Linked DNA regions of Homo sapiens: region 2 is linked to region 1. The links come from fine-mapping of genetic effects on gene expression. Tissue or cell type: pancreas. Region 1 holds a variant in brackets; the other region holds the start of a gene. All regions are shown on one strand. Distances are from middle to middle.

Region 1 (2,755 bases):
TCCTGGCCGGCTTGGGCAGCCCATGAATAAGTAAATAGCCTTCCAGCCTGGTGCCGAGCACAAACATCCGAGGCTCAGAGAGGCTGGCGTCCACGGGGACCGGAAGGGGGGCCGGCGGGGAGGCCTGGACCAGTCTGTCTGGTCCACTAGACCACTAATCTCCGGTGCCTTGTAAGTACCTGCTTCTGGGGCTGGGGAAAGAGCCCCGTGGGTTAATGAGATACAGCTTAGACACAGACGGGAAATCAATCTCTTTCTAGGCTGTGGGCTGTAGAGCAAGGGTTGTTTTCTGGGCTGAGAGGTGGGAAGAGGCATTTCCAGCCTCAAGGGGTTGTGATAACCCCTGGTTTCTAAACCTTTGGGTCTTAATTGTGGCTCAAATCACTGTTACTACCCTGTGGGTATGCTGTTCCAAATCTGTCCTCAGGCCTTGTATCAGGCTAGAAAAGACCCTTGGTCTCGAGGATCAGTTTCGGTGGGCTGTGGGCGGGACACTCGGGATAGGATGTGGTTCAGGAGGAAAGGCAAGGGCTGGGTGTCCGGTTATTTGTCCCTCCAACTTTCCTCCCTCAGGAATTCACCGTTCTGGTGGGAACAGTTTGGTTTTGCTAGTTTAAGCATCACAGAACTGGCATTAGAAACAGCATCCATTCAAAGTTGTGAAATCTCAAGTGGAAATTCCTACTCTGTATTCAATTTTTGTGCAACATTTTCAATTCTTTGAGCTCAAATGATGAGACAAAGTTGAACACCCTTTAGATAATGAATATACTCAGACAATAGATATAATTGTAGCATTTTAATTTCATGTAGGTCCGCTGTTAGTTGAAATATACAGCAAAACGTGAGGGTGCTGACTCTGGCTTAAGACCTGGGGGGTTCTTTTTTTATTCTATGTAGCGAGGACCTTGTAGTAAACAGATGAAATGAACTGCGTCTATGCCTAACATTAAATAGCAAGAACTGGCTCCTCCCTCCTGGCAGAAGGCATGATCCTGTGCTCCGTGAGGAAGATGTTTATGGGGCAGAGCAGGTGGCCGGTGTTTTATGTGTCCTGGTGTTCCACGGCAGCAGTAAAACGTACATCAATGAATCATTGTTTTTGTTTTCCTCTCTGCCTAAATGGCTCTGTTAATTAAAACTTTGTGTAAAGTGGTCTTCAAGCTCTGTACTCAATTTTACATGGGCTCATTAGGGTTGGTTATGCACAGCCCCACAAATCCTTTAACTTGCTGGACCACTTTTGAATTAATAATTAACATACTTCACATGTAACCATACAGAGTAGTTTTTTATGCCCTAT[C/A]ATCATTAGCAAGCTCTCCAGTCAGCCTGGTGAGATATTAAAGCCCCTTAGCCTCTTTAACGATGGAGTAGGCCGAGCCGAGGACAGGAGGGGCCCCAGAGCAAAGAGAACAGGGTGGTTGAAAAAGCACATCCCGGCAGCCCAGGAAGATGAGGGGAGAAAGCGGTAGGTTTACTTGTTCTGTACGGAGGGCACCGACCTGCACTAAATGCATTGAGAAGCCAGGAATCATTGCCCCACCCCCCAATTTTTTCTTCTGTAATAGAACTAGAAAAAAAAAATGTACATCACTTGCAGATTATCGTGACTTCCTGTAATCTCGTTTTTTCATGTTATTCTTAATGATTTCTCTGAGAGAACATGATTCCTTAGAGGAGCAGAATAGGATGTGTGTTGGTGGAGGTAAGGATTTGGGGGTTTGCACTAAAAGGAGGTAGTCAGCAATGACGACGATGTGCCTCTGCCTGCAGGGATCTCACTGGAGGTGTCTGCCTTGATTTGTTTGCATCCAGCCCATCTGATCTGGTTAGAAACGTCTCTTTTATTTTTTGCTGAAATCGTCCCACGATGAAGTAGGTGGACCAGTGGTGTTACATCAGTTGATTTTAGGAGATGTATAGATTTTTAAAAATGTTTTTATGTGATAACTATTTGTTTCATGTAGTTTAAAGAAAAGACATGGGCATATCAAGTAAGTTAATGTGATAGTATAAGGTTTCCTTTGAGAAAGATTTGTGGAGGAAGACTTCAGTGAGTTCCCAAGCCAGACACAAGCATGCTTTCTTTTGTGCTGCAACAGTAGTTTATAACTTGAAAGTGCATGCATGTAATTTGAAAAATTAAGTGTATAAAGGTATATGGAAACAATCTCGTGCTGTCTCTTCTTTCCATACCCAGTCCCTTGAGCCCACTTTCAATACTTTTAGTGGTTTCTTCTTGAAGCTCTTAAATAATAGTAAAAATTGCCAATATTGTAACTTTTTTTTTTTTTGACTTACCAGTTTTCCAAAGTAAAAAAATATTAGCAGCACTTTCTGGGGTGGTAGATAAGTGGTTCTCAAAGGGCTTTGAGCGGGCAGTTTTGCCTTTCAGGGTTGGCGTTGGGAGACACTTCTGTTTGTCATGATTCAGGGAAACGTGTGTGCTACTGGCCTCTGGTTGCTACTGGCAGGGATACTGCTAAACACCCCATAGTGCACAGGACAGCCTGCACAAGGAAGAATTACCTGGCCCCAAATGTCACACTGCTGAGTTTAAGAAGCTCTGTGGTAAATGAAGATTTAGTTATCTTAGTTTCCCTCCCCCAGTCTATACACATAGTTAAATTGCTACTTTATTTAAGTGAATACTTAGTTGTTACGTTGTTATTGTGTGTATATTGCTAATGGTAGCACCAATTAGTGACTGTGGTTACATCCCTTTCGTTGTATGGCTTTTTAGTTTTCCTGGAGT
Region 2 (2,755 bases), 84 kb before region 1:
TGTACGAGTATCTGGTAACCAGTCCCTTCCACGATTTTCTGCAGTCTTGTAGTTTCTGTGACCTGATAACTCTGCTGCAGGGTGAAAAGGAATCATCTGTGGTTTGCCACCTACTCCTGGATACAGCACGTATCTCTTTGTTCCATGCACAGAGGCTGGGGCCACTCTACACGGGGCTTGAAAGAAGCCTCCAGTCTTGCAGCCAAATTCAGAGGCATATAATTCAGAAGCCTATCCGGGAGGCCAAAATGAGTCCTGACTGGGAAAACTCGCTGGACCCGTCTGCCACAGTGTTGAAAAAGTTGTCTTGGGAAGAGGTTTCCTCTGGCTGTCTAGGTTTGAGACCTTTGCGATTCCTTTAAGATCACAAGCAAAACCACGGTGATGGTAGGATGTGTTGGTTTTACTAAGGAGCCCATTTTTTAAAAAACTTGTAAAGTGAGCCTTAATTGGAGAAGCAACAGAAAGCACCTCGGGACAAGTCCTTCCTTTTTGTACAAAGGACCCGTGGTGAGCCCTTCCTTGGAATTCTCGTGTCCTACACTCGAGTCTTGTCCCTGCACAGGGCCATCATTAGTAGGAGCCCTCAGAGCCTCAATTAGGGTATGTGGAGCCCAAAATACCAAAGGGGCTTTCCTCCGCATGAGCTATCTTATTCAGCACCTTTCAGTAACAAGCCATGGGATTTTTACCCCAGGGAAGGAAGCAAGTGTGTGAAGTCCGTGCGTGTTTCCCAGGGTTTTTTCCCTCCTGCACCACCCGGTTGCTAGGTAGCGGGTATATCTGTGCCACCACCTGAAGTTCTGTGGGAAGGGGGAATCTGCGGGGCCACTGGAGGCTTGGGGTGGGGAGGGGAGCCGGACAGGAGAGCAAAGACCCAGGCAGCTTGGGTCGCTCCTCTTCATCACTTAATTCTGAGGGCGCTTGAGTTTCTGAGCTTCCTGGAGTAGAGCCCAGGGCAGCTTTTACTTTGATGTGCTGATCGGTTGCCTGTCGGTTGCAGGAGACCCCCGGCCTCCTGCAGGGAAGATCCTGTGCTGTTTTCCCAGGGATGGAGAGAAAAGCACCAACCCCAAGCCCCGCATGGCTGAGAGCTGTTTGCCTCCATCTCTGTCCGAGCTTTTCACCACAGCTCTGTGAAAGAAACTGGCAGTGAGGGGTATAGCCATCTTGGTGTGTGTATGCGCACGTGTGTGTGCATGTGTATTTGTGTGTGTGTGTGTGTGCGTTCAAACACTGACGTTTCAGAGGCTCTGGTTACTGCTGCATGGCGGATGATCCTCTCTCTCTCCCTCTCTCTCCCTCCCTCTCTCCCTCTCGACCTGCTTGCCTGCCTGCAGAAAACTAATGAATCATGTCTAGCTGAATGCAAGCAGTGCAGACACACCAATGCCCTGCAATGTTGACTGGGCGCCGCCTCTGCCTGCCTCTCGCTCCCTGTCTCTCCCTCTGCTGCTCCCTCCCTCCCTCTCTCCCTCTCCCCCTCCTCCCTCCCTCCTTCTCTCCCTCTCCCCCTCCTCCCTCCCTCCGTCTCGCCCCCAGTTTGTAATCTGACACAGTACACTGCAGTTGTCTCCGAGGTGAACCTCCGGAGCCTTGGCACAGCTCGCTTCTAAAGGTAGGCTGAGATTTATTTTTTTCTCCTAAAAATAGCTTCCCGTCTCCCCTCGCCTTTCTGCACCCGAGCTGCAGCGGCGTTGATCACAGGGGGTTAGCCGGAAACTCTTTGCCCAGACAAAGTTTATCTTGCAGCGGATGGAGAATGCCCTTCAGCGTGGGGTCCGGGGGCGCTGGGTGCGGGGAGCAGCGGCTCGCCCTGCTGGCATGTCGGTGCTGCTTGGAATTCAGGATCGTCTCGGAAGGGAAGGGCTGACGGGCTTCTTCCTGGGTGCCGGGTGTCAGCTGCAGGGGTGCTGTGGCTCTGTCATGGCCCCCACCCCAGGCTTTTAAGAAAGGCCCCTCCAGGCAAAGTTTGGCACCCGATGGACACGGCCCCGCTCGCCTGGGGAGTGCGCCCCAGGCTTCTCAGACAGCAGCGGCTCAGGGCCTGGACTTGTCTTCTTGGGGGCGGGGTGGAGGGGGGGAAGGGGACGTGGGACAAACACATCAGAGTCCCCAGCTCGGCTCAGGTGCAAATGCACAAAGCCCGCAGGCTGCGCCCAGGAATCTGTCAATTCACGTCCCATGGACTGACTTGAATAATGTGTTTGTCAAAACAGATGTTCCCCGGCAGAGTGTGTGCGTGCATGCGTGTGCCTGTGTGAGCAGTGTGCGCGGGCTGCTGGCCGGGGGCAGACTCTCCCAGTGGAAACCGTATTTCACCGGGAAAGGCAGCGCGTACGGGACCACCCGCCCAGGAGCTTAGGTCTGGGTAGGTCCAGGTGGGGGCCCGGACATCTGTCAGCAGAGGCCTCGGTGGAAGCAGCCTCCCTCCTGTCCCCGGGGAGCGCACGCTGGCTGAGGTCGGGGTGGCGGCTGGCCGGAGGGAGGGAGGACTGCTTCACCTCCCGGCCTGGTCACTGGCCCCGGGGGAGGCGGGGGTGCTGGCTCCGTGCCTGCGTGGCCTCTGGGTCCCTGGAGGTTCTTAGGGTGAGTGAGGAGGGAGGGAAGGGGACCCTGTCCAGCCCCATATTTCTCTCACGGAGGAGCCCTGAAGGAGACTCTGCTCACAAGGGTGAAAACCCCACTTCGTCCAGGGAAGGGAAATGTCACAGATGGAGCAGGCCTGAGAGGAGGGAGAGCGGCTCCCTCTGAA

Evidence for each region. PIP is the estimated chance that this variant, and not a neighbour inherited with it, causes the effect.
Region 2: RIMBP2 starts here. The variant in region 1 is fine-mapped to the expression of RIMBP2 in pancreas (GTEx, PIP above 0.99). The same link has a PIP of 0.9 or more in lung.

The regions. Positions count from the first base shown.
Region 1 is chr12:130,631,221-130,633,975 of GRCh38, reverse strand. All of the region lies in intron 1 of RIMBP2 (RIMS binding protein 2), which reads left to right. Among named protein-coding and RNA genes, the nearest start is that of RIMBP2, 84 kb to the left of the region's middle. RefSeq lists an enhancer at 1-71. The variant C/A (reference allele first, on the strand shown) is at 1,304.
Region 2 is chr12:130,715,085-130,717,839 of GRCh38, reverse strand. It overlaps RIMBP2 (RIMS binding protein 2), which reads left to right and starts at 1,541. Exons shown (of 23, transcript NM_001393629.1): 1 at 1,541-1,618.